Homo sapiens: one gene and its partners. The protein of the gene in region 1 purifies or fractionates together with the protein of each later gene. This does not show direct contact. Each region holds a gene or a part of one and is shown in the gene's direction. Other genes may lie near its edges. The genes, in order: MKI67, DNM3, OAS3, ARID3B, MAP3K20, NFIC and KNOP1.

The links.
Region 2: the proteins of MKI67 (region 1) and DNM3 purify together in Homo sapiens (affinity purification with mass spectrometry; one large-scale study listed by BioGRID and IntAct). This does not show direct contact.
Region 3: the proteins of MKI67 (region 1) and OAS3 purify together in Homo sapiens (affinity purification with mass spectrometry; one large-scale study listed by BioGRID and IntAct). This does not show direct contact.
Region 4: the proteins of MKI67 (region 1) and ARID3B purify together in Homo sapiens (affinity purification with mass spectrometry; one large-scale study listed by BioGRID and IntAct). This does not show direct contact.
Region 5: the proteins of MKI67 (region 1) and MAP3K20 purify together in Homo sapiens (affinity purification with mass spectrometry; one large-scale study listed by BioGRID and IntAct). This does not show direct contact.
Region 6: the proteins of MKI67 (region 1) and NFIC purify together in Homo sapiens (affinity purification with mass spectrometry; 2 studies listed by BioGRID and IntAct, with this or other methods). This does not show direct contact.
Region 7: the proteins of MKI67 (region 1) and KNOP1 purify together in Homo sapiens (affinity purification with mass spectrometry; one large-scale study listed by BioGRID and IntAct). This does not show direct contact.

What each region holds. Positions count from the first base shown.
Region 1 is NC_000010.11:128,102,385-128,106,307, reverse strand, and holds part of MKI67 (proliferation marker protein Ki-67), read left to right. Parts: coding exon 1-3,729; intron 3,730-3,923. UniProt on the Homo sapiens protein: Protein that associates with the surface of mitotic chromosomes and acts both as a chromosome repellent during early mitosis and chromosome attractant during late mitosis.
Region 2 is NC_000001.11:171,987,957-171,991,879, forward strand, and holds part of DNM3 (dynamin-3), read left to right. Parts: intron 1-988; coding exon 989-1,192; intron 1,193-3,923. UniProt on the Homo sapiens protein: Microtubule-associated force-producing protein involved in producing microtubule bundles and able to bind and hydrolyze GTP. Most probably involved in vesicular trafficking processes, in particular endocytosis.
Region 3 is NC_000012.12:112,969,118-112,973,818, forward strand, and holds the end of OAS3 (2'-5'-oligoadenylate synthase 3), read left to right. Parts: intron 1-490; coding exon 491-638; intron 639-844; coding exon 845-856; 3' UTR 857-4,134; downstream 4,135-4,701.
Region 4 is NC_000015.10:74,575,498-74,579,420, forward strand, and holds part of ARID3B (AT-rich interactive domain-containing protein 3B), read left to right. Parts: intron 1-3,923. UniProt on the Homo sapiens protein: Transcription factor which may be involved in neuroblastoma growth and malignant transformation. Favors nuclear targeting of ARID3A.
Region 5 is NC_000002.12:173,190,621-173,194,543, forward strand, and holds part of MAP3K20 (mitogen-activated protein kinase kinase kinase 20), read left to right. Parts: intron 1-274; coding exon 275-303; intron 304-419; coding exon 420-557; intron 558-3,923. UniProt on the Homo sapiens protein: Stress-activated component of a protein kinase signal transduction cascade that promotes programmed cell death in response to various stress, such as ribosomal stress, osmotic shock and ionizing radiation.
Region 6 is NC_000019.10:3,380,046-3,383,968, forward strand, and holds part of NFIC (nuclear factor 1 C-type), read left to right. Parts: intron 1-1,666; coding exon 1,667-2,198; intron 2,199-3,923.
Region 7 is NC_000016.10:19,704,410-19,708,227, reverse strand, and holds part of KNOP1 (lysine-rich nucleolar protein 1), read left to right. Parts: intron 1-1,006; coding exon 1,007-1,318; 3' UTR 1,319-3,818.

The sequences.
Region 1 (3,923 bases):
GATAACCCCACGACTGATGAGAAAACTACCAAAAAAATACTCTGCAAATCTCCGCAATCAGACCCAGCGGACACCCCAACAAACACAAAGCAACGGCCCAAGAGAAGCCTCAAGAAAGCAGACGTAGAGGAAGAATTTTTAGCATTCAGGAAACTAACACCATCAGCAGGCAAAGCCATGCACACGCCTAAAGCAGCAGTAGGTGAAGAGAAAGACATCAACACATTTGTGGGGACTCCAGTGGAGAAACTGGACCTGCTAGGAAATTTACCTGGCAGCAAGAGACGGCCACAAACTCCTAAAGAAAAGGCCAAGGCTCTAGAAGATCTGGCTGGCTTCAAAGAGCTCTTCCAGACACCAGGTCACACTGAGGAATCAATGACCGATGACAAAATCACAGAAGTATCCTGCAAATCTCCACAACCAGACCCAGTCAAAACCCCAACAAGCTCCAAGCAACGACTCAAGATATCCTTGGGGAAAGTAGGTGTGAAAGAAGAGGTCCTACCAGTCGGCAAGCTCACACAGACGTCAGGGAAGACCACACAGACACACAGAGAGACAGCAGGAGATGGAAAGAGCATCAAAGCGTTTAAGGAATCTGCAAAGCAGATGCTGGACCCAGCAAACTATGGAACTGGGATGGAGAGGTGGCCAAGAACACCTAAGGAAGAGGCCCAATCACTAGAAGACCTGGCCGGCTTCAAAGAGCTCTTCCAGACACCAGACCACACTGAGGAATCAACAACTGATGACAAAACTACCAAAATAGCCTGCAAATCTCCACCACCAGAATCAATGGACACTCCAACAAGCACAAGGAGGCGGCCCAAAACACCTTTGGGGAAAAGGGATATAGTGGAAGAGCTCTCAGCCCTGAAGCAGCTCACACAGACCACACACACAGACAAAGTACCAGGAGATGAGGATAAAGGCATCAACGTGTTCAGGGAAACTGCAAAACAGAAACTGGACCCAGCAGCAAGTGTAACTGGTAGCAAGAGGCAGCCAAGAACTCCTAAGGGAAAAGCCCAACCCCTAGAAGACTTGGCTGGCTTGAAAGAGCTCTTCCAGACACCAATATGCACTGACAAGCCCACGACTCATGAGAAAACTACCAAAATAGCCTGCAGATCTCCACAACCAGACCCAGTGGGTACCCCAACAATCTTCAAGCCACAGTCCAAGAGAAGTCTCAGGAAAGCAGACGTAGAGGAAGAATCCTTAGCACTCAGGAAACGAACACCATCAGTAGGGAAAGCTATGGACACACCCAAACCAGCAGGAGGTGATGAGAAAGACATGAAAGCATTTATGGGAACTCCAGTGCAGAAATTGGACCTGCCAGGAAATTTACCTGGCAGCAAAAGATGGCCACAAACTCCTAAGGAAAAGGCCCAGGCTCTAGAAGACCTGGCTGGCTTCAAAGAGCTCTTCCAGACACCAGGCACTGACAAGCCCACGACTGATGAGAAAACTACCAAAATAGCCTGCAAATCTCCACAACCAGACCCAGTGGACACCCCAGCAAGCACAAAGCAACGGCCCAAGAGAAACCTCAGGAAAGCAGACGTAGAGGAAGAATTTTTAGCACTCAGGAAACGAACACCATCAGCAGGCAAAGCCATGGACACACCAAAACCAGCAGTAAGTGATGAGAAAAATATCAACACATTTGTGGAAACTCCAGTGCAGAAACTGGACCTGCTAGGAAATTTACCTGGCAGCAAGAGACAGCCACAGACTCCTAAGGAAAAGGCTGAGGCTCTAGAGGACCTGGTTGGCTTCAAAGAACTCTTCCAGACACCAGGTCACACTGAGGAATCAATGACTGATGACAAAATCACAGAAGTATCCTGTAAATCTCCACAGCCAGAGTCATTCAAAACCTCAAGAAGCTCCAAGCAAAGGCTCAAGATACCCCTGGTGAAAGTGGACATGAAAGAAGAGCCCCTAGCAGTCAGCAAGCTCACACGGACATCAGGGGAGACTACGCAAACACACACAGAGCCAACAGGAGATAGTAAGAGCATCAAAGCGTTTAAGGAGTCTCCAAAGCAGATCCTGGACCCAGCAGCAAGTGTAACTGGTAGCAGGAGGCAGCTGAGAACTCGTAAGGAAAAGGCCCGTGCTCTAGAAGACCTGGTTGACTTCAAAGAGCTCTTCTCAGCACCAGGTCACACTGAAGAGTCAATGACTATTGACAAAAACACAAAAATTCCCTGCAAATCTCCCCCACCAGAACTAACAGACACTGCCACGAGCACAAAGAGATGCCCCAAGACACGTCCCAGGAAAGAAGTAAAAGAGGAGCTCTCAGCAGTTGAGAGGCTCACGCAAACATCAGGGCAAAGCACACACACACACAAAGAACCAGCAAGCGGTGATGAGGGCATCAAAGTATTGAAGCAACGTGCAAAGAAGAAACCAAACCCAGTAGAAGAGGAACCCAGCAGGAGAAGGCCAAGAGCACCTAAGGAAAAGGCCCAACCCCTGGAAGACCTGGCCGGCTTCACAGAGCTCTCTGAAACATCAGGTCACACTCAGGAATCACTGACTGCTGGCAAAGCCACTAAAATACCCTGCGAATCTCCCCCACTAGAAGTGGTAGACACCACAGCAAGCACAAAGAGGCATCTCAGGACACGTGTGCAGAAGGTACAAGTAAAAGAAGAGCCTTCAGCAGTCAAGTTCACACAAACATCAGGGGAAACCACGGATGCAGACAAAGAACCAGCAGGTGAAGATAAAGGCATCAAAGCATTGAAGGAATCTGCAAAACAGACACCGGCTCCAGCAGCAAGTGTAACTGGCAGCAGGAGACGGCCAAGAGCACCCAGGGAAAGTGCCCAAGCCATAGAAGACCTAGCTGGCTTCAAAGACCCAGCAGCAGGTCACACTGAAGAATCAATGACTGATGACAAAACCACTAAAATACCCTGCAAATCATCACCAGAACTAGAAGACACCGCAACAAGCTCAAAGAGACGGCCCAGGACACGTGCCCAGAAAGTAGAAGTGAAGGAGGAGCTGTTAGCAGTTGGCAAGCTCACACAAACCTCAGGGGAGACCACGCACACCGACAAAGAGCCGGTAGGTGAGGGCAAAGGCACGAAAGCATTTAAGCAACCTGCAAAGCGGAAGCTGGACGCAGAAGATGTAATTGGCAGCAGGAGACAGCCAAGAGCACCTAAGGAAAAGGCCCAACCCCTGGAAGATCTGGCCAGCTTCCAAGAGCTCTCTCAAACACCAGGCCACACTGAGGAACTGGCAAATGGTGCTGCTGATAGCTTTACAAGCGCTCCAAAGCAAACACCTGACAGTGGAAAACCTCTAAAAATATCCAGAAGAGTTCTTCGGGCCCCTAAAGTAGAACCCGTGGGAGACGTGGTAAGCACCAGAGACCCTGTAAAATCACAAAGCAAAAGCAACACTTCCCTGCCCCCACTGCCCTTCAAGAGGGGAGGTGGCAAAGATGGAAGCGTCACGGGAACCAAGAGGCTGCGCTGCATGCCAGCACCAGAGGAAATTGTGGAGGAGCTGCCAGCCAGCAAGAAGCAGAGGGTTGCTCCCAGGGCAAGAGGCAAATCATCCGAACCCGTGGTCATCATGAAGAGAAGTTTGAGGACTTCTGCAAAAAGAATTGAACCTGCGGAAGAGCTGAACAGCAACGACATGAAAACCAACAAAGAGGAACACAAATTACAAGACTCGGTCCCTGAAAATAAGGTGAGAGGAAGTATTACAGCATCACTCAATATCGTCTTGGATAGTTGTGAATTTCTGTGTTATACTTTGCATGTAACCTGACGTTATAAGTGGTTATCCTTTCCCCAGAGGGTTTCCTTTAACACTGAATAACTGCAGGCCATGGTAAAGAATCTTCTTGGGACCTATAGAGGGAATAGACTAATATGGGAAAA
Region 2 (3,923 bases), on another chromosome or scaffold:
TTAAGACATTTAAGGAGAGGCAGTAGGAGATGACTTTAATAAAAACAGAATTGAGTTAGTCATCAAATTTTTTCTTCATTTTTATTATAAGCTTTTAGAATTTGAGAAGGGTATATATGAAAACTTCCATTTTTCAGTCTTTGCTGAAATCTTAGAGGTACATGTTACTATGGTTGCATCTTCCCCTATTGGATGTCTTGCAGCCATATATAGTCCTATTTATTTTCTTCCTGAGAAATCAGCTCTGACTTTTTCCCCCAGACTATCGGTAGAAACTTATAAATTAGATAACCAATCCATAATGTGTGATGGGAAATAACCTGTATGCTGACTAAATTTTTAGTGGGCAAATTTTCATTTCTTATTCCCTACTTAGCTCTATTGCTTTTAAAACAGAATATAAATGACATAAGCTCAATTATGACTTCCCAAGGGTACTTGGTGCCAACATTGTTTATATGGAGAGGTTGGGCTAGAGTCATGTTGTCACTGACTCTGTTTGTACAGCTGATTCAGTAAACCCAGGGCACCACGAATGGCTAACAGCTTTCTACTAGGCTAAGTGGTTAACTTTCTATTAAAAAAAAAAAATGATACTTTTTAAGGAAAGGGCAGTCTTACCCTGTGAGTTTTTATACCACTTGAAGGCAATGTATAAGACTGGCAGATAGCATATGCATTTCTCATTTGGTGTTTTAATTATAACCCCCTAGTTACAGATATGACAGCTTTCTGAGCAAACTGTTAGGCATGCAAATCAGTGCCTTTCAAATTATGTTAAAGTGATCATTTGGCATAGCACAATCATATCATAAAAATAGAGAAAACTAGCAAAACCATTTTTATTTTATGCTCTTTATTCTACACACATGGGTTGGAGTTGTTCAGATACACAAAGTAGAAGGCTGAGCTAAGTGACAAATGATTCTGTATTGTTATCTTTTAGCATTGAAGGTGTATGTAAGACTCCTTTATCCTTTCCACACAGTGTTAAATCTAACCCTTATTGATCTACCTGGAATAACTAAAGTGCCTGTGGGAGATCAGCCACCAGATATCGAGTATCAGATCAGAGAAATGATTATGCAGTTCATCACGAGGGAGAACTGTCTGATTTTAGCTGTTACTCCAGCCAACACTGATCTTGCAAACTCAGATGCGCTGAAGCTAGCTAAAGAAGTTGATCCTCAAGGTGAGTGTGTGACTACTAAGATGAGAAGGAATTAAAGTGTCAGGAGTTTTGGTATCTTTAAAGGTAACATAAATTCTTAAGATTTGGTTTCATTATAAATAAATTAGCCATTATTAATGTTGTTAAACCTTTTGTATTTTAAATAGAAAATTCAGTATTTAATATTAAAAAATAATAAATAATTTTAGTAAAGATTTACTAAAATAATGAAATTTATATAGTCAAAATCTATATAAATCTAAGAATAATGAGATCTAAGAAAACAGGCATTTCTAAGCCTCATGGGCTGCATATTTTAAAAAGTTGGTAAAATAAACTTCTGGTACAGCAGAATTCAGACAATCTACTAATTATTATGAGTTACCTGCATATGCTTCCAGTGAAAAACCTTTGTGTTTTTTACTTTGTCTTGTTTCTTTAAAATAGGAAGCTCTAATGCATGTAAGATATTATTTAGCTTATAATTATTTGAGAAAAAATGTACGTATAAGCAGGGATTTATTTGGTATTGTCATCTCAATATCCAGAAAAGGTCCTTTCTTATGCGTATGTTTAAACTTTTTACTTCTCTAAGTTGAATAACGACAGTTTATCTTCAGAGACCTCAGTGCTGGCCTTGGTGTGTGTCTGTTTAAAGTGATTGTGGAAGGGCATTCAATGATGTGCCCTTTCAATATGGAGATACATGTTCTTCAGTTCTAGGAATTTTTCTTTTTTGATAATTAATTGTCCCAATTTCTTTGTTCTTTTTATCTGTAGTTCTTATTAGCATGTTAGAACTCCTAAATGAATCCTTTATTTCAATCTTTCTCTTCTATAATCATTTCTTTGTCTTTTTGTTCTACTTTCTGCAAGATTTTATCAACTTTATCTTCTGCTCTTCTGATTCATTTTAGAGGTTCCAAAAGCATATTTTTACTTTGTGAATCTTATTTTTATTTTTTAAAATAGCATCATGTTCTTGTTTTCATAAATACAATATCTTCCTCCAAGGACTTTAGTGAGAGCTTTTTGAAGGTTTTCTTTTGTAATCTACATTGTCTGAATCTATTGTTTTCTGATTGTTTGTTTTTGTCTCTGTCTTTGATGTTAGAGACCTTTTTCAAATGTTTGTCGATCTTTTGCCGCTTGTTCGTGCATGAGAGTGGAGCACCAAAAAGCTGATTTATGTACATGACAGGGATTCATTGACCAGTGGGTTTTCCCATGGAGTAACTGTGCTGAGAGTTGACCATTTTGTTAGGAGACTTCCTCAACTGTTAGGTTCTATGAGTATTTTCTCCTGAGCTGGTCTGGTATAAGCCTGATGTCTAGTGTTCTTGGAGCCAAGAATTGGTGGGTCAGGGGATGGAGTGGGAGGAGGATGGTTCTCACTATTCAGTGTGTACACTTTTAATTAATTCCTCTGCTTTCATGATGGCATTCCTGAAATTCTTCTGGAGTCCAGAGTCCCTCTGGTTCAACCTCTTTTGAAGCAAGTCTTCAGTACTCTGCTGAGGTTGAGGAAGGGTAGCTATGTGGGTGTGTCCTCTAGGAGCCTTCAGCCAATTCTTTTATTTTCAGCTCTTCCTATACCCTAGCATTGGTTCTCCAATTCTTAGGCCTTTCCAGAATTCTGCAATGGTAACTGTTTTTTTCTTCTTGGTTTCCTCCACCATCCCTGAAACTGGGGCTTGTAACAAGCAGGTAGAGGCTCCAGATGACAAGTAAGGACCATCACCAGGACTCCCTTTACAGCGTCAGTGGCTTGGAAGAGTCAGATTATAAACTGGGACTGGAATCTAGTTATAAAAATGGTGCTGAACCATTCCTGTCTTACAGCCTTCTTTCCCATAGGAGATTGAGCCATGGTTGTCTGATTGGGACAGAGAGAGTCATACCATCAGTGAATTCTAGTGAGTTCAGCCCAGTCACATTCCTGAGGAGTCCACACGTAGTCCACGTAGAAAAAACAAACTCAGCTTCTCCTACTATATTCTCAAACACGCTTCTGACTCCAGATGTGTGGTGATTTCTCCCTACTGCAAACAAGCAATTAATTCTTTTCTGCAGCAGACATCAGCTAGGTATCCTCTGATTAAATTTTATTCTGATACTATTTACCTGGAAATAGCATCAGATCACACTGATTGAGGGTTCAGTCCCACAAGATGACCCCCACTTCTGATGCCAGTTACAAGATCCAGGTTGTTTACCCTGTGCTCTGACTGACTGGCTATAAATTGGGGTTTCTACAACCTTCTTCTTGTGTTCTATTAATTTGCTAGAGGGGCTCACAAAACTCGGAGAAACAGTTCTTTGTTATAAAGAATATTACAAGGGATACAGATGAAGAGATGCATAGGGCAATGTATGAGAAGCGATGTGGAGCTTCCATGTTCTCTCCGGGCACACCATCCTCTAGAAACCTCTGCATCTCCAGCTATCCAGAAGCTCTCCAAACCCAGCCCATTTTGGATTTTTATGGAAGCTTCATTATGTAGGCATGATTGATTAAATCATTAGCTATTGGTGATCAACTTAAACTTCAGCCCCTCATCCCTCCTAGGAGGTCATATCTGTTCTTTCTAGTGACCAGTCCACTTGCTGAAGCTATCCAGGAGCTGCCAGCCACTTACCAACCCATTAGCCTGCAAAAAGATACTTATCACTTTGAAGATTCCAAGGACTTTAGTAGTTGTGTGCTGGGGAATAGGGAAGAAGACTAAAAATGCGTACCGCAATATGACAA
Region 3 (4,701 bases), on another chromosome or scaffold:
AAGCTTTTTGACCACCAAAAAATATGCTCAAGGAAAATGCTTATTGGAGCATTTTGGATTTTCAAATTAGGGATTCTTAACTGGTAAGTAAGGCAAAGGTCCAAAATCTGAAAAAATTTGAAGTCCAAAACACTTCTGGTCCCAAGCATTTTAGATAAGAAATACTCAACCTGTATCATGGATGCAGGAGGGGAGAGTTGTGGAACCAGTGTTGTGATTGATTAACAATGCCTCCCCTGAATAAGGAAGGGGTAAGCGGTAGCACCGTGGTTGATTAGTAATGTTTGCCTGAATGCAGAATGGCAAAGTGGCCATGTGTGTCTTATTTTCTATACCTGCCCTGTAGTGTATAGGAGCACTGAGGAATCTCTGAGCCCTGGCTCTAGCCCCTGCAAAGTGTTAGATAAAAGGGGAAAATAGTCCAACCAGTGCCACAGGTGGACACCTAGATGTTGCCAGGAATAAGACTGTCCCTGGGTGGGAATTGCAGGCCTATCATCCTGGATCCGGCTGACCCGACAGGCAACCTGGGCCACAATGCCCGCTGGGACCTGCTGGCCAAGGAAGCTGCAGCCTGCACATCTGCCCTGTGCTGCATGGGACGGAATGGCATCCCCATCCAGCCATGGCCAGTGAAGGTGAGAGATCTGTGGTGCCAAAGGAAGTACCCTTTAGGGGTAAGGGGGGAGCATGGTCAGGGGAGGGACATGATTCCCACTAAAGGGGCAGGGCCCAGTGATGGCCCCAGGTATGCCCCTGTGCTTCCATTTTCCCATCCGGCTGTGTGGTCTCAGCTTCTGCAGAAAGAATGGGGTTACCAACATCTCTTATAATACTTCCCCAGGCTGCTGTGTGAAGTTGAGAAAATCAGCGGTCCTACTGGATGAAGAGAAGATGGACACCAGCCCTCAGCATGAGGAAATTCAGGGTCCCCTACCAGATGAGAGAGATTGTGTACATGTGTGTGTGAGCACATGTGTGCATGTGTGTGCACACGTGTGCATGTGTGTGTTTTAGTGAATCTGCTCTCCCAGCTCACACACTCCCCTGCCTCCCATGGCTTACACACTAGGATCCAGACTCCATGGTTTGACACCAGCCTGCGTTTGCAGCTTCTCTGTCACTTCCATGACTCTATCCTCATACCACCACTGCTGCTTCCCACCCAGCTGAGAATGCCCCCTCCTCCCTGACTCCTCTCTGCCCATGCAAATTAGCTCACATCTTTCCTCCTGCTGCAATCCATCCCTTCCTCCCATTGGCCTCTCCTTGCCAAATCTAAATAGTTTATATAGGGATGGCAGAGAGTTCCCATCTCATCTGTCAGCCACAGTCATTTGGTACTGGCTACCTGGAGCCTTATCTTCTGAAGGGTTTTAAAGAATGGCCAATTAGCTGAGAAGAATTATCTAATCAATTAGTGATGTCTGCCATGGATGCAGTAGAGGAAAGTGGTGGTACAAGTGCCATGATTGATTAGCAATGTCTGCACTGGATACGGAAAAAAGAAGGTGCTTGCAGGTTTACAGTGTATATGTGGGCTATTGAAGAGCCCTCTGAGCTCGGTTGCTAGCAGGAGAGCATGCCCATATTGGCTTACTTTGTCTGCCACAGACACAGACAGAGGGAGTTGGGACATGCATGCTATGGGGACCCTCTTGTTGGACACCTAATTGGATGCCTCTTCATGAGAGGCCTCCTTTTCTTCACCTTTTATGCTGCACTCCTCCCCTAGTTTACACATCTTGATGCTGTGGCTCAGTTTGCCTTCCTGAATTTTTATTGGGTCCCTGTTTTCTCTCCTAACATGCTGAGATTCTGCATCCCCACAGCCTAAACTGAGCCAGTGGCCAAACAACCGTGCTCAGCCTGTTTCTCTCTGCCCTCTAGAGCAAGGCCCACCAGGTCCATCCAGGAGGCTCTCCTGACCTCAAGTCCAACAACAGTGTCCACACTAGTCAAGGTTCAGCCCAGAAAACAGAAAGCACTCTAGGAATCTTAGGCAGAAAGGGATTTTATCTAAATCACTGGAAAGGCTGGAGGAGCAGAAGGCAGAGGCCACCACTGGACTATTGGTTTCAATATTAGACCACTGTAGCCGAATCAGAGGCCAGAGAGCAGCCACTGCTACTGCTAATGCCACCACTACCCCTGCCATCACTGCCCCACATGGACAAAACTGGAGTCGAGACCTAGGTTAGATTCCTGCAACCACAAACATCCATCAGGGATGGCCAGCTGCCAGAGCTGCGGGAAGACGGATCCCACCTCCCTTTCTTAGCAGAATCTAAATTACAGCCAGACCTCTGGCTGCAGAGGAGTCTGAGACATGTATGATTGAATGGGTGCCAAGTGCCAGGGGGCGGAGTCCCCAGCAGATGCATCCTGGCCATCTGTTGCGTGGATGAGGGAGTGGGTCTATCTCAGAGGAAGGAACAGGAAACAAAGAAAGGAAGCCACTGAACATCCCTTCTCTGCTCCACAGGAGTGCCTTAGACAGCCTGACTCTCCACAAACCACTGTTAAAACTTACCTGCTAGGAATGCTAGATTGAATGGGATGGGAAGAGCCTTCCCTCATTATTGTCATTCTTGGAGAGAGGTGAGCAACCAAGGGAAGCTCCTCTGATTCACCTAGAACCTGTTCTCTGCCGTCTTTGGCTCAGCCTACAGAGACTAGAGTAGGTGAAGGGACAGAGGACAGGGCTTCTAATACCTGTGCCATATTGACAGCCTCCATCCCTGTCCCCCATCTTGGTGCTGAACCAACGCTAAGGGCACCTTCTTAGACTCACCTCATCGATACTGCCTGGTAATCCAAAGCTAGAACTCTCAGGACCCCAAACTCCACCTCTTGGATTGGCCCTGGCTGCTGCCACACACATATCCAAGAGCTCAGGGCCAGTTCTGGTGGGCAGCAGAGACCTGCTCTGCCAAGTTGTCCAGCAGCAGAGTGGCCCTGGCCTGGGCATCACAAGCCAGTGATGCTCCTGGGAAGACCAGGTGGCAGGTCGCAGTTGGGTACCTTCCATTCCCACCACACAGACTCTGGGCCTCCCCGCAAAATGGCTCCAGAATTAGAGTAATTATGAGATGGTGGGAACCAGAGCAACTCAGGTGCATGATACAAGGAGAGGTTGTCATCTGGGTAGGGCAGAGAGGAGGGCTTGCTCATCTGAACAGGGGTGTATTTCATTCCAGGCCCTCAGTCTTTGGCAATGGCCACCCTGGTGTTGGCATATTGGCCCCACTGTAACTTTTGGGGGCTTCCCGGTCTAGCCACACCCTCGGATGGAAAGACTTGACTGCATAAAGATGTCAGTTCTCCCTGAGTTGATTGATAGGCTTAATGGTCACCCTAAAAACACCCACATATGCTTTTCGATGGAACCAGGTAAGTTGACGCTAAAGTTCTTATGGAAAAATACACACGCAATAGCTAGGAAAACACAGGGAAAGAAGAGTTCTGAGCAGGGCCTAGTCTTAGCCAATATTAAAACATACTATGAAGCCTCTGATACTTAAACAGCATGGCGCTGGTACGTAAATAGACCAATGCAGTTAGGTGGCTCTTTCCAAGACTCTGGGGAAAAAAGTAGTAAAAAGCTAAATGCAATCAATCAGCAATTGAAAGCTAAGTGAGAGAGCCAGAGGGCCTCCTTGGTGGTAAAAGAGGGTTGCATTTCTTGCAGCCAGAAGGCAGAGAAAGTGAAGACCAAGTCCAGAACTGAATCCTAAGAAATGCAGGACTGCAAAGAAATTGGTGTGTGTGTGTGTGTGTGTGTGTGTGTGTGTGTTTAATTTTTAAAAAGTTTTTATTGAGATACAAGTCAATACCATAAAGCTCTCACCCTTCTAAAGTGTACAATTCAGTGGTGTGAGTATATTCATAAGATTTATACTTGGTGTCTATTCATAAGACTTATATCCAGCATATTCATAACTAGAGCCATATCACAGATGCATTCATCATAATAATTCCAGACATTTTCATCACCCTAAAAGGAAACCCTGAAACCCATTAGCAGTCATTCCCCATTCCTCCAACCCATTCTCTCCCTAATCCCTAGAAACCACCAATCTGCTGTGTATTTCATCTATTGCCAACATTTCATATAAATGGCATCATACAATATGTGGCCTTTTGTGTCTGGCTTCTTTAACTTAACATGTTTTCAAGATTCATTCATGTTATAGTATATGTTGAGGTTTCATTCCTTTTTATTTCCGAAAGACATTTCCACTGCATAAATTGACTACATTTTGTTTATCCATTCTTCCATTGATAGGTATTTGGATATTCTCCACTTTTTTGCTATTTTGCTGCATTTTTTGCTATTATGACTAATAGCTGCTATGGACACTCTTGTATGAGATTTTGTGCAGACATATGTTTTCATTTTTCTTACGTATAAAAGGCGATCCACAATTGATGACCCCATCATAAGTCAAGGAGCATCTGTGTGCTGTATTAATCAGAGTTCTCCAGAAAAACCAAACCATTAGAATAGAGGAAGAGATATATAAAGAGATTTATTATGAGGGTTTGACTTGTGTGATTATGGAGTCTGAGAAGTTTTGTGATCCACCGTCTGCAAGCTGGAGACTCAGGAAATCCAGTGGTTGTAGTTTCAGACCAATTCAGAAGGCTGAGAACCAGGAGATTGCTGGAATAAGTCCCAATCCAAGTATGAAAGCCCAA
Region 4 (3,923 bases), on another chromosome or scaffold:
GGGTATTCAAGCTGCCTTGAGGTTTGGGTGCATCTGTGTCCTTCAGCCAGCTGCCCCGTAATTGAGAGTCAGCAGTAGAGAACAGTCTTTGCTGCATATCCTGCTGTTCTGTGGCAACTGGGACTGCCAGATTGCCATCTAGTATATTTCTGAGTGAACCCAAAGCAGGAGTGAGTGACTCCCTTTGATAATGTCACTTTATGATTCTTCAGGTCCTGAGTAAATCTTTGTCCTGTCTTCAGCACTTACGTCAGGTATTTCACTGTTTGCTGGCATTACCAACAGAAGGGAAACGGTTCTGTCTGCCACTTGTTACTTTAATAAAAGGTTTCTCAGCCTCAGCACTGTTGACTTTGGGATGGGTAGTCCTTGTTGTGGAGACTGTCCTGTGCACTGTAGGATTTTGTTTTTAATTTTGAGACAGGGTCTCACTCTGTTGCCTCAGCTGGAGTGCAGTGGTGCGATCATAGCTCACTACAGCCTCAAAGTGCTGAGCTGAAGCCTTTCTCCTGTTTCAGCCTCCTGAGTAGCTGGGACTATAGGTAGGCACCACCATGCCTGGCTAACTTTTTTGTTCTGTAGAAATGAGGTCTCACTATGTTGCCCAGGCTGGTATTGAACTCCTGACCTCAAGTGATCCTCCCACCTCGGCTTTTCAGAGTGCTGGGATTACAGGTATGAGCCACCGCACCTGGTTACTGTAGGACGTTTAGCAGTATCCATGGCCTCTATCCACTAGATACCAATATCAGCCCCTCAGTCACAACAACCAAAAATGTCTCTAGATGTCATAAATGTCCCCTGGAGGGCAAAATTGTCCCGTTGAGACCCTCTGGCATGGAAAGATGAGAAAGAGAATAAAGATGTAAAATATCCTCTGCAAGAAAAACTCTTAGCTGAGTGTGGTGGCTCACGCCTGTAATCCCACCACTGTGGGAGGCTGAGGTGGGAGGCTCAGGTGAGTCTCAGTAACATAGTGAGACCTTCTCTCTACAAAAAATGAAAACAAAATTAGCCAGGCATAGTGATGCATGCCTGTAGTCCCAAGCTACTTGGGAGGCTGAGGTGGGCAAATTGCTCGAGCCGGGGACTTGGGGGCCGTCATGGAGGCCAACATTGCGCCACTGCCCTCCAGCCTGGCCAAAAAGTGAGACCCTGTCTCAAAAAAAAAAAAACTTTTTATGAAAATCATCTTACCTCCAGTCAGGTACATGAGAGCAAGCCGTGTTAGGTAGCATTGTTTCCTGTGACTGAGTGCCAAAGGAGTGAGTGCTGGGGCCTCACCCTGGCCTGCAGTGCAGAGAAAGGCTCTGAGAAGAGCTGTGGCTCTAGTGTATCAGACCCAACCATGGAGGTGGAGGAAAAAATGCTGTGACACATGTGGCCCTGGTGTAGCTGGAAGAACCCTTGTTGATGGCCCAGAGCCAGGGGCCATCCTGGATGGGTCAGCTGGCATGAGACTCTGAAGAGCCATGTTTGCCCAAAAAGCGCTTCAGTCTGTAGATATAGCTGAGTTATTGAAGGCAAAATATTGGCTTTCAGGAAACTTGCCGTGGCAGTGTATAGTTGGGCTAGAGAGGAGAGACTGAGGCAGGAAGATAGTGTAGAGGTTGTTATTCCCAGCGATCTCCTTTCTAGAAAACTCTTATCTGGTAGTCCGAACTAGAGTGAGTGGTTCAGGAGGGTTGGGAGTGGGGCATGGTGGCTCATGCCTATAATTCCAGCACTTTGGGAGGCCTAGGTGGGAGGATCACTTGAGACCATGAGTTTGAGATCAGCCTGGGCAACGTAACAAGACCCCATCCCTGTAATTTAAAAAAAAAAAAAAGAAGATGTAATCCCAGCTACCCAGGAGGCTGAGTCAGGAGAATCACTTGAACCCGGGAGGCGGAGGTTGCAGTGAGCCAAGATCGCACCATTGCACTCCAGCCTGGGTGACGAGCGAAACTCCATCTCAGAAATAAAAAAGAAGAAGAAAATTTTAAAAGAGGGGTGGGAGCAGATTGCACTTTTATTTTAATTAATTATTTTATTTATTTTTGAGACAGGGTCTCACTCTATTGCCCAAGCTGGAGTGTAGTGGCGCAATCATGGCTCATCGCACCCTTGACCTCCCCAGGCTCAGGTGATCCTCCCACCTCAGCCTCCTGAGAATCTGGGCCTACAGGTGTGCACCACCACACTCAGCTAATTTTTCTGTTTTTTTGTGTGTGTGTGTGTGGAGACGAGGCCCTTATGTTGCCCAGGCTGGTAGCAAATTCCTGGGCTCAAGTGATCCAACTGCCTGAGCCTCCCAAAGTGCTGGGATTACAGGCATGAACCACCACACCGTGCTGGGCCTCAGATTACAGTTTTAATCATGTGAGGCTTGCTGTCTTTGTTCCTTTTTTTGAGACAGAGTCCCAGTCTGGAGTTCAGTGGTCGATCTCAGCTTACCGCAACCTTCCCATCCCGGGTTCAAGTGATTCTCGTGCCTCAGCCTCCCAAGTAGCTGAGATTACAGCCATGCACCACCATGCCTGGCTAATTTTTATATTTTTTAGTAAAAACAGTTTCACCATGTTGGCCAGGCTGGTCTCAAACTCCTGGCCTCGAGTGATCCGCCTGCCTCCGACTCCCAAAGTACTGGAATTACAGACATGAGCCACCGCACCTGGCCTGTCTTTTTTTTGTTTTTTTTTGTTTTTTTTGTTTTAAGCAAAGTCTCCCTCTGTAGCCCAGGCTGGAGTGTAGTGGCACCATCTCGGCTCACTGCAACCTCCACCTCCTGGGTTCAAGCTATTCTCCTGCCTCAGCCTCCCAAGTAGCTGGGATTACAGGCATGTACCATTGCACCTGGCTAATTTTTTGTATTTTTAGTAGAGACAGGATTTCACCATGTTGGCCAGGCTGGTTTTGAGCTCCCAACCTCAGGTAATCCGCCCGCGTCGGCCTCCTAAAGTGTTAGGATTACAGGCATGAGCCACCGAGCCCGGCTGTCTTTGTTCTTAACAGAATGGTGAGAACAAGGGCCCTTAGACATTTGTGACTTGTCACTTGTGGAGTGTCTGGGGGACACAGGAGGCAGATCTTGCTAGTTGGGACCAAGGAAAAGCCTCATAGACCTCAGCAGCAGGTCAGGGACTTGGCCTCCATAGCTAATATGAAAGGTAAGCAGTAGATATCACAGGAGTCACTGGAAATAGCCTGAGTTAGCCTGGACAACATAGTGAGACCCTGTCTCTACAAAAAAAACATTTTTTTTTAATTAGCTGAGTGTGGTGGCATGCGCCTGTGGTCTCAGCTACTTTGGAGGCTGAGGTGGGAGGATCACTTGAGCTTGGAAGGTCAAGGCTACAGTGAGCTGAGTTCATGCCATTGCACTACAACCTGGGCAACAGAGTGAGACCTTGTCTCAAAAAACAAAAGAAAGAAGGAAAGGGAAAGGGAAATGCAAGGAAGAAAGAAAGAAAGAAACGAAAGAAAATAGCCTGAGTTTGAAAGGCCCGGAGACACCCAGGTGGGCTGTGAGAGGGGCCAGCAGCTTTGACACAGCAGGCTGTGCCCACAGAGGAAGCAGACAGCTCTGAGGGATGCAGCACACAGCAGGCCGCCCCGAATGACCGCAGCTGCAGGTGATAAAATGGCTGTCCAGTGGGAGACAGGGACGGGCCATAACTGCTGCTTTGTGCTGTATCTCTTGCTTGTTAACATGTTTGGGTGAATTGACTGCAACAGATGGGCCTTTCAGCCCTCAGCACCTTGGTTTCTAGGCAAGACCGGGGTGACTTGCACCTTGGCGACCCCCTCCCCTCCCTGAGCAGCAGAGCAACCTGCGCATAAAGAAGCCTGAGAAGATTGGAGTGGGACGAGGCGCAGTGCCCTGTGGGGGTGGAAAGAGCTCTGGACTGGCAGTGCAAAGCCAGGGCTAACATCCCTTCGTT
Region 5 (3,923 bases), on another chromosome or scaffold:
TAACTACTACTAATTTGTGCCTTTCTTACTGGACAGTACTGCATTTGGATAAAACAAGTGTCTCAGAAGCCTTTTTAATCAGTACCTAATGGAATTAAGTTTTTGTTTTAATGTCAGCCCCCTTTTGCAAAATCCTCAATGCTGTAAATACATTGATTTCACCTTTCATAATCCCATATTGAAGACAGAAATAGAAGTTTATGGTTTTTTTCAGTAGAAGACAGCTCAAACAAATTAGATGATTGTCATAATTTATCCTTTTTTCTTTTTTTAGTTGTTATAGCTGCTGATGGAGTATTGAAGGTAGGACTATTTCTTTTACTTAAAAAAATTGTTAATTTCAGATGTAGATTTTTGTAACTGATAATCCCTTAATTAGCCAATAAGTAGAAAGTTGACACTGATTCCTGTTTTCTCAGATCTGTGACTTTGGTGCCTCTCGGTTCCATAACCATACAACACACATGTCCTTGGTTGGAACTTTCCCATGGATGGCTCCAGAAGTTATCCAGAGTCTCCCTGTGTCAGAAACTTGTGACACATATTCCTATGGTGTGGTGAGTTCATTTCTCATTTCTTGTTTACTAAGGGAAATACAAAAAGCAAACACTCAAAAGAAGAGAGATACAGTTTAACATGGTTTTATTTTTATTTGAGACTGTACTGCTGGTGGAATGCCTAAAGCAGCACCATTGGAGAACGCTTCCTAGTTGCCAAAATGTTTAATCATTTTTAATCATCGGAGTTATTTTGTCCTGTGTTGAGAAGAAACCAACACCACTTCCAAGAAACAAATTAAATGGAATCCGAGATAGTGTTGGGCTCCGCTTTGCCTGTGAGAATGATTTTTTGCAGGGTGGTAATGTGACTGTGGACTCTCTCTGTAATTTCAATGGAAATGTGGATCATTTGGAACAGGACTTCATTGTAATGGATTGCTTAAACAGTATAAAATCACCAATAGATCTGCCAAGCGAGTTAATTACCAGGAAACTTTTGAGTCTCAACTATTAAACTGATTCATCGGTTTCTAAAAGTCCAAAAGAAAATGTACTTAGCACTTACCAGATGACCTTGTCCATGTCTGCTGCCAGTCTTAGAGTAGCAGTGACTATCTGAAGCGTGACTCTAAGGCATTACATAAGAATCACAGCAGAGCCACATAGAGAATAGACTAATGAGGGGGTGGAGTGCTCAAGGAAGAGACCACAGGAATGAATCCGTTAAGGAGCAGAAGCTCCTGGAGGAGGAATTTGGAGATGGGCCATTTCCTGAGGAATAGGTTATACCTGCATTATCAGAGAGAAGGAAGTGGAGTGGGAGAGTTCTTTGCTGGAGGAAGGAATTCATTTGTTGCCTTTTGTTGAGGATAAACTTTTCCCTAAAATGTTACGTATTCTTTAAAAAGTCCAAAATAGTTTTGGAATTCCCTGTCTTTACATCTCATACTGCCCTGCTATTTATACTATTATACTGCCCTGCTGTTTATACTATTACTTCCTAAAAGGGCATTTTCATAGTAATGGGTAAAGAAGCAGCCTGTTTTAGGTCCAAATCAGCCTGTCTCTTCGTCCTGAACTTCTGTGTTTTCTTACTGCAGGTGGTAGCCAATGACACAAGAGGAGATTCACGTTGTCAGACCTGTTTTGTTTTGTTTTGTTTTCTTTATTCGGTCTCTAGGTATTTAATGCTGGCTTCACAGGTTTTGGACTTGTTTCAGTGACTAGCTTTTTGTAAATCATAACACATCCTATGTATACCAAATTAATAAAGATTAATTTTGTTAGCTATTGAAAAAATCATTTCAAGAATGAAATATGTTTTTGACCGAAGGCTAGAATTTTAAAGGTCAGAAGGCAAGAGTAACATCAGGCTTAATACCTGATATCCAAAAAAAGAAAAAAAATCAATACCTGATATCCCTTGATTCTGGTTTCTTAAGAATGAAGACTATAAGCTATTACAGTGATCAAATATTTCTCATAAGTTTCAGAGGAGACTAGCTTATAAAACTGGTCTCCTATGTCAAATGTTACTACATTCTAACCATCATACATTCATCTGTGGGATATTCTGAAAATGGGGTATTTGTAGCAATTTAAGACTCTTTGTAAGATTGTTTTCTCTTGTGAAAGTGCATTCCTTCATTTATAACCAAACGTTTATTTACTGAGGCACACACCACCTGAGAGTAATTTAAATTTTTCTTAGCCTGCTTGTTGGGAACGGCCTCTCGTTTTGTCCTGTTGAAATAGGAACAAGCAAACTTTTTCTAGAAAGGACCAGATAATATATATTTTTGGCTTTGAGGGCCACTTACAGTCTCTGTTGCATAGTCTTCATAGATGCCATAGTTGGCTTTTTGTTTCTTACAACCCATCAAACATGAAAAAGCCACTCTGTATTCTGCAGCAGGCCATCGTTGCGGGCACCTCCCTGGAACAAGAGGGCTTGGGAAGATGAGCAGCGTGGTTTAGGAACGTGGCTTGACCGTTCAGAGTGGCTCACCAGGAGCCCACTGCTCCCACTCCTTTAATGTGCATGTGTATATAAATGTATATAAACATGTTTGTTGGTGTTAGGTATATATGTATGTTGGTTATAGTTATTGTAGACTGTTACAGCTTTTAAATTGTTTGTCACATTTATATGAACTAGAAGACTTTTGAGGTTCATTTTTGCACTTATGAGTCCACACACATACAGTGCTTTTACTTTTAAAATTCTCCCCAAGTGTTTGAATTTCCTTATCTCAAAAATTTTTGACCTTAAGACACAACTATACATACATTGAACTTTTAGCCTCAACATTATTTCATATATGAAAACAAACTTTATGCTGCCTTCTTTCAAAGCCTTACAGTTGCCAGGGCTTTGGTGTGAAATGCCCCCCTCTGCTTTTCCTGAGATGAAGTACAATCTTAGTACCAGTAGCCAAGCACAAATTCCTTTTCACACATAAACTATAAAAGATGTTAAGAGTGACTTCTGTTTGGAGAGCTTAGGATTTTTTTCCTGTATCATTTTAAAATCTCTTCATACATTCCACATTGACCCCATTTCTTAAACATAGTTTGAGTCAACCTTTCTGGAGCTGCACATTTTCAGTGTTTTTTATTAAAAATCTTTTCACTTAAGAAACTATGCACCACATTTCAGTAGAAGGGCTTGAACACGTCTCTTTGTGGATTAGCTTTTCTCTCTACTTGTGTGCTGACCCTACCTTTGCTTAGTTTGGTTTGGTTTTGGAGGGATTTAACAAATGCTTAACAAACCATCCTATGGAGTAATTTCACTTACTGAAACAAACTCGACCACCAGCCACTGAGCATTTCCAGTGTTGCTCTGTATTTACACACTGGATGTTGCTCTGCAGAACCTGTCCACCCCATCATGTGATGTGGAATATCAATTCTGCATTCATGCTAGAGCCTTCCCTTACCTGGTGGAAACAGAAATGCCATTTCAGTGAGTGAGTCTATTTTAAAACAGCTTCTGCTGTGTGAGTCTTGAAGACAGAGGTTTGCTTGGAATGCTGGTTTGCCTCACAGAATGTTGTGTCAGCAGAATTCCATTCAGAAAAGTGTACAGATGCTAATTTAATTATAAACAAGAACTCAGGACTGTATAGGTTGATGCAAAAGTAATTGAAGTTTTGCCATTTAAAAGTAATGGCAAAAACTGCAATTACTTTTGCACCAACCTAATATTTAATTCTGACCTCTTCTCATTCTGTTTGTTCTAAATAAACACCATTAATGAGAGAAAAAATACGAGGTATGCTTTCCAGCGACTTTTTATTTAAACAACCACAGGTATTTTTTTAATGAAGAAAGCATTATGTGTTCAAAGTAGATGTTATAGAAAAGAGCAGGTGAGGATAGTTGTTAAGGTTGGGACCATGTTAGTTTTAGAAGTTTGTG
Region 6 (3,923 bases), on another chromosome or scaffold:
GCTGGAGTGCAGTGGCGCAATCTCGGCTCACTGCAAGCTCCGCCTCCCGGGTTCATGCCAATCTCCTGCCTCAGCCTCCTGAGTAGCTGGGACTACAGGCGCCCGACACCACGCCCGGCTAATTTTTTTGTTTTTTTTTCAGTAGAGACGGGGTTTCACTGTGTTAGCCAGGATGGTCTCAATCTCCTGACCTCGTGATCTGCCCGCCTTGGCCTCCCAAAGTGCTGGGATTACAAGCGTGAGCCACCGTGCCCAGCCTTGTTCTTTTTTTTTTTTTTTTTTTTTTTTTGAGACAGTGTTTCACTCTTGGCACCCAGGCTCCCAGGCTGGAGTGCAGTGGCACAATCTGAGCTCACTGCAACCTCTGCCTCCCAGGTTCAAGCGATTCTCCTGTCTCAGCCTCCTGAGTAGCTGGGATTACAGGTGTGCTCCAATATGCCTGGCTACATTTTTTTGTATTTTTAGTAGGGACGGGGTTTTGCCATGTTGGCCGGGCTGGTCTCAAGCTCCTAACCTCAGGTGATCCACCTGCTTCGGTCTCCCAAAGTGCTGGGATTACAGGTGTGAGCCACTGCGCCCAGGCTTTTTTTTTTTTTTTTTTTTTTTGTGACAGTCTTGCTCTGTCGCCCAGGCTGGAGTGCAGTGGCACCATCACAGCTCACTGCAGCATTAAACTCCTGGGCTCAAATGATCCTCCCACCCCAGCCTCCCAACTAGCTGGGACTACAGTTGCAAACCACCATACCTGGCTAATTTTTGTTTTTTTGATTTTGTTTGTTCATTTGTTTTGTAGCGATGGGGTTTTACCATATGGCTCAGACTGGTCTCAAACTTCTGGGCTCAAGCAGTCCTCCCTCCTCGGCCTCCCGAAGCGCTGGGATTACAAGTGTGAGCCATTACACCCAGCCCAACCCTAGCTGCAATAGGCAGAGAATAGGTCCCTGACATCTTTGTTCTCCCAACCTCAGTTTTACCCGTCTGTACAATGGGTTGTCCATGAGCCTCCACCTGGCCCCCTTAGCTTGCTCCATCTGCATGCTGGGGTTCAACATAGGTCCTCCACGGCTGGGCATGGTGGCTCACACCTGTCATCCCAGCACTTGGGGAGGCCGAGAGCCGAGGCGGGCGGATCAGAGGTCAGGAGATCGAGACCATCCTGGCCAACATGGTGAAACCCCATCTTTCCTAAAAATACAAAAATTAGCTGGGCGTGGTGGTGGGCATCTGTAATCCTAGCTACTCGGGAGGCTGAGGCAGGAGAATCGCTTGAACCCGGGAGGTGGAGGTTGCAGTGGGCCGAGATTGCGCCACTGCACTCCAGCCTTAGCGTTAAGAGCAAGACTCCGTCTCAAAAAAAAAAAAAAAAAAAATGATCCTCCACAAACTTCCGCCTTGATTTGTGCCTCTCACATAGTCCAAGTCTGTTTGCTCATCTGGGCGATGGGTTCTTGCAGGTCCCTGATAAACTTCTCCTGGGTCCCCCGGGCCTTTTGCGTGCCTCCGGCGGCGTGCACGGGTCCGCAGCGACCCCCTGCCCACCTCTGCCCAGCCCCTCCCACTCTGCGGGTCTGTTCAGGGCCCCTCCGACCTCAGCCTTCGGGGCCGGGCAGTGGGTCCGCCCTCTGCGTCCCTGGCGCTCCTGACCTCTCGCCTCTCCGGCCTGCAGGATGAGTTCCACCCGTTCATCGAGGCCCTGCTGCCTCACGTCCGCGCCTTCGCCTACACCTGGTTCAACCTGCAGGCGCGGAAGCGCAAGTACTTCAAGAAGCACGAGAAGCGGATGTCGAAGGACGAGGAGCGTGCGGTCAAGGACGAGCTGCTGGGCGAGAAGCCCGAGGTCAAGCAGAAGTGGGCGTCGCGGCTGCTGGCCAAGCTGCGCAAGGACATCCGGCCCGAGTGCCGCGAGGACTTCGTGCTGAGCATCACCGGCAAGAAGGCGCCGGGCTGCGTGCTCTCCAACCCCGACCAGAAGGGCAAGATGCGGCGCATCGACTGTCTCCGGCAGGCGGACAAGGTGTGGCGGCTGGACCTGGTCATGGTCATCCTGTTCAAGGGCATCCCGCTGGAGAGCACCGACGGCGAGCGCCTGGTCAAGGCTGCGCAGTGCGGTCACCCGGTCCTGTGCGTGCAGCCGCACCACATTGGCGTGGCCGTCAAGGAGCTGGACCTCTACCTGGCCTACTTCGTGCGTGAGCGAGGTGAGGTGTGGTGGCCTGAGCGGAGCGGCCAGCGGGGAGGGTGTCTGATGGTGGTGACACGGGGCCAGGAGGGCCTGAGGGAGGAGGCCAGTGCGTGTGGGTATGATGTGGTGGTCTGAGAGGGGAAGTGGGCCTTGGAGAGTGCCCAATGGGGGCGACACGGGGCACGGAGCATCTGAGGGAGGAGGCTGGTGGGTATAGATGTGATGTGGTGGTCTGAGAGGGGAGGCGAGTCTAGGAGAATATGTAAAGTAGGTGATATGGCACAAGGAGAGTCTGAGAGAGGAGGCCAGTGCATATAGATGTGATGTGGTGGTCCAGGCAGGGCAGCAGGCCTGGGAGAGCATCTGATGGGGGTGACATGGTGCAAGGAGGGTCTGAGGGAGGAGGCTGGTGCGTGTAGATGTGATGTGGTGGTCCAAGCGGGGAGGCGGGCCTGGGAGAGCGTCTGACGCCGGGTGACACGGGGCAAGGAGGGTCTGAGGGAAGAAGCCAGCATGTGTAGATGTGATGTGGTGGTCTGAGGGGGGAGGCAGGCCTAGGAGAGCGTCTAATGCAAGTGATATGGTGCAAGGAGCGTCTGAGGGAGGAGGCCAGTGCATGCAGGGCCCAGGGTGGCTGCTGATGGGATGTGGAGGTCAGATGGAGGAGGCAGGCCTAGCAGAGGTCTCAAGTGAGAGATGGTACAAGGAGGTTTTTTTGACAGAGGAGGCAGGTGGGCTGTGGCGCTCCAATGGTAGAGGCAGGATCTCACCCTCACGTCTGAGGGAGGAGGCAGGAAGGCCCTTGAGGTCTCAGGGGGATGAGAATGTCCTAGATGGTCTTGGGCACAACGGACGGCCTTGCTGGGAGCAGGGGTGAGGAGAGGAGAGGGACAGGCCATCCCAGCCCTCCGAGGAGAGCCAAGAGAGTCCTGGCACCGCTTTCTGTGAATGCTTGTTGGTTGATTGACTCTCAGACCATGCCAGCAGAGGCCTGATGAGCCTGGCCCTGCCAGAGGGGTGTTTGCCGGTGGTCAAATGCCTGATGTTGAGACCAGCTAGCTCTGTGGGGTTGAGGAAATCCAAGGCGGCTTCCCAGAGGAGGAGGTGCAGCTGAGCTCAGCTCTGCAGGATGGCCAGGCCACAGTGAACAAGGAGATGCCCCAGGGGTCCTGGCAGGAGCGTGGAGATGAGAGGCCTGATGCCTGTGCCTCTGGTCCCGGTGCTAAGAGCAGGGTTGGTCCTGCAGCTTCTTGGCTGCGTGGCCCTCTTGGACTTCAGTTTCTCTTGCCTGCCAAATGGTGGAGATGATCAGTCTGTAGCTGGATGGGGCTATGGGAGGTTCCAGAAGATCATGCGTGTAGCCACGTGCGAGGTGTCAGCTGCATCCCAAGACCTGAGTGGGTGCACAGCACACCCCTGCCATGCCCATCCAGGCCGTGTCTGGAGCACGCGTGAACCCCCACACACCCAGGGGCTGCCAGAGCATGTGGGATGGGTGTACGCCAGACGCAGACCCACACAGGTCACCAGCCCAGCCCCAGCCCAGGCAGCACTCTATAGAAACAGGCAGTTGCACAGCCTGAGAGGGAGGGGCATTTGCCCGAACAGGAGGACCCTGGGGCCAGACTGCCCATGCTCCAGACACAGCCCTTCTTTTCCCCAGCTGTATGGACACATCCCTTTTCTGTGCCTCAGTTTCCTCCTTGGTGCAATGGGAGTAACAGCCATGCCACCTTCTAGA
Region 7 (3,818 bases), on another chromosome or scaffold:
TTGGCTGTGTGACCTTTTACCCCTGTGGGCCCGCACCCGTTCCCGCCATAAAACAGTGCTTCTGAGAAGCACACTTCAGATTCCCACTCGCCCTCTCCCACCCTCCAATTCACCCAAACGTTAGGCTGCTGGGTGAGTGCGCCCGGCTGCTGGGCTGTGGGGTGCCCTGTGTTGCAGGGGAGGTGCGCCCTGTGGGGAGGTGGGGGAGGTGTGCTGTCTTGTGAGATGCATGGTGGGGTGAGGTGCGCTGTGTAGGGAGGTGGGGGGAGGTGCGCTGTATAGGGAGTGGGGGAAGTGCTATGTAGGGAGGTGGGGGAGTGTGCTGTGTAGGGAGGTGGGGGGAGTGCGATGTGTAGGGTGGTGGGGGGAGTGCACTGTGTAGCGTGGTTAGGGGAGGTGCGCTTTGTAGGATGGTAGGGGGAGAGTGTGCTGTGTAGCGTGGTGGGAGGAGGTGCGCCATGTGCGCCGTGTAGGGAGGTGGGGGGAGTGCTCTGTGTAGGGTCGTGGGGGGAGTGTGCTCTGTAGAGTGGTGGGGGAGTGTGCTGTGTAGGGAGGTGGGGGAGGGGAGGTGCACTGTGTAGGGAGGTGGGGGGAAATGCTTAGTGTAGGGTGGTGGGGGGAGTGCGCTGTTGTGAAGTGAGGCACACTGTGCCGTGTGCCATGAGTTAGGAAAGGAGGAGGAAGGCAGAAAGGCAGCTCTGTGCAGAGGTGGGCAGTGGTGTTGGCTGGACCTGGGCTGGAATTCTGGGGGTCACTAGTTAGGTTTCTGTCTCCAGCTAAGCTGCAGACCTCTATTTTCTCCTCTGTGCAATGGGAATAACAACAGTGTTTCTCATAGGGCTGTCTTTAGGATTAACGGAATAATCCGTTGTTGAGCTTATTAGCACTGTGCCTGGTACACAGCAGCCATCTAATCTGCTGGGCCCTCCCTGATGAGGGTGGGGGTCAAGGGAAGGAAAGGGCTTTGAACTCAAGGAAAATAGCCACCTTTTTCCTCTCCTCACAGGGAACCCAGTTTGGCCAGTGGGATACTGCTGGTTTTGAGAACGAGGACCAAAAACTGAAATTTCTCAGACTTATGGGTGGCTTCAAAAACCTGTCCCCTTCGTTCAGCCGCCCCGCCAGCACGATTGCAAGGCCCAACATGGCCCTCGGCAAGAAGGCGGCTGACAGCCTGCAGCAGAATCTGCAGCGGGACTACGACCGGGCCATGAGCTGGAAGTACAGCCGGGGAGCCGGCCTCGGCTTCTCCACCGCCCCCAACAAGATCTTTTACATTGACAGGAACGCTTCCAAGTCAGTCAAGCTGGAAGATTAAACTCTAGAGTTTTGTCCCCCCAAAACTGCCACAATTGCTTTGATTATTCCATTTATGCTGGAGATTACAAATTTTTTTTGTGAAAAAATCAGATCTTGGTGAGGACCTCGAGCAGTAAGATATAAATAACTCCCATAAGCTTAGCGTTCCAGTAATGGAACACTAGGCATAAATGGTTTATTCAGTTGTGCAAATGAAAGCCATCTGACAGTTGGCTCACATTGAACACCTGTGGAGATTAAGGACGAGGACAACTATATTGATGGGCTTGGATGAACTGGGGCAGGGCAGCTCATATTTCGGGAGCCAGGAGAACGAGTGAGTGCTAAAACCTCCTGTTTTCTGTGTTAAACATTCCGTCCCTGTTTGAGACATCAGTATGTACAGTTAACTTTTGTTGAGTGTTTAGCAGGTACTAGGGACATACTAGTGTTTTCCTTAATGTATTTAATCTTCATAATTATGAAATGGGTGCTATTATTAGCCCCATCTTATAGATGAGGCAACTGAGGTTCAGGGATAAAGTAATAAAATTGCCTGGGGTCACCCAGCCACTAAGTGCAGGGTGTTGTACTTTTGTACCCGAAGCCCTAAGTTCACTATTCGCCACTCTGAATGTCCCCTTTAGGGAATTTCCACCAGAATCCTCGTTGGGGATTGAAATGTCTTTAGATGGAGGAAAAAGTTTTATGACAAGTCTGCATCTCTGATAAAAAGTGGAGTGAATGAGGAACGGAGAATCGCAAACTCCTTTTCCTTCCTTTTCCTTTCCCCTGTCATAGAGCAGCTGTAGGCAGAGAGGTGTCTGAGTTGTTACCAAACACATGTGACTGAGCTGCTGCTGCTGGGAAATGTGCCTCTAAACCAGTCCTGCCTTTTCCACTGGTGTCCCTTCGGCCCTAAGTGCTGAGGTAGGATTTTTGTGCTTTGACTGGATTCTGAACAAGGCATTTTAGGAAGAGTGGTTAGTCCCGCAAATGAATCAATGGCAGATCCCAGGGACGTGTGTGTGTGTTTTGAGATAGGCTCTCACTCTGTCACCCAGGCTGGAGTGTAGTGGCATATCACGGCTTGTTGCAACCACTACCTATCCAGCTTAAGTGATCCTCCCACCTCAGCCTCCCAAGTAGCTGGGACTGTGGGTGTGCACCACAACAACCAGCTAGTGTTTAAAATTTTTTGTAGAGATGGGGTCTCACTATATTGTCCAGGCTAGTCCCAAACTCCTGGACTCAACTCATGCTCCTGCCTCAGCCCCCAAGAGCTGGGATCACAGGTGTGAGCCACTGTGCCCAGCCCCAGGGATGTGTCTGATGAGATTCTTTTTTATCACAAGGAAGAGAATCCCAGGTGACTTCTGTAGGTGGATATTGAATGCCAGGAGGAGATGAACGTGTGGAGATGACACGGGAAGTTGCCTCATCGGCTGTGGGGACAGCGTTTCCAAGCCTGGACTCTACAGCAAGCCTCAAAGAGCTCCAGGTCCAGTGGCCCAAGTCGCATGTGACCATCTGTGACCACCTTCTTTCCACTCACCTAGCTTTTTGCATCCCAAAATACAGGTTCTGACTGGGACATTTTCACGATCGTTTGGCCTGAACATGCCTCCTACAGACATCCCAGCCCAGGCAGGCCTCGATGGCCAGAAAGTTCAGTCTCACGTGGCAGGAAGGCCTGATTAGGGCCTGGTTCAACAGCTCGCCAAGGAAGCATTCTCTCCATCATCTCCAGTGTTGGCTTCATCAAGGCTAGTACAAAGATGGCAGTAACAGTTCCAGGCAGCATATCAAGACCCTAGAACATTCCAGAGGAAGAAAAGCCTTTTTGTGTCTCAAGGAAACTTCCAGAAGCCTCCATTGCTGGGCAATGAGTCATCTGCCCATAGCTGCACCCGCCCCTGTCATGGGAAGGCTGGTGATTCCCTTCAGTCAAGAAGAGTGGATGCTGGTGAAGTGGCCATGGTGTCCACAGCTGCCCATTGGGCAGAGGTGAGGCAGGCACTTCAGGCAGTTTCCCTGGCTCTGAACCCTGATCCGCAAGCATTGGCCAGGTCAATAGTTGGACAAGTATGTGCTACAAGGACCTACTTGGGCCACTTCCCTCAGGACGTGAACTTGTCCTGCCTTTCTTTCCTGGATTCAACCTTGAGATACATAATGGGAGAGGCCGTGGAAAGCCCAAGAGGCAGTGTTCTGGATTTGAGTGAGTGCCTTCTGGGCACCTCCTCCTTTGATGGAGAAACAAATCCCTCCTGACCTTGAGCAACACTACAGGAATGTGCCTGGTGTAAACAGGAACCAGCCGTTCGTTTCTTTTTTTTTGAGATGGAGTCTCACGGTCGCGCAGGCTGGAGTGTGGTGGCGTGATCTCGGCTCATTGTAACCTCTGCTTCCTGGGTTCAAGCGATTCTTGTGCCTCAGTCTCCTGAGTAGCTGGAATCGGCCGTTTACTACTCATAGTTTTTATCTTGCCAAGAGGTCACCCTGACGTTGGCCTGCCT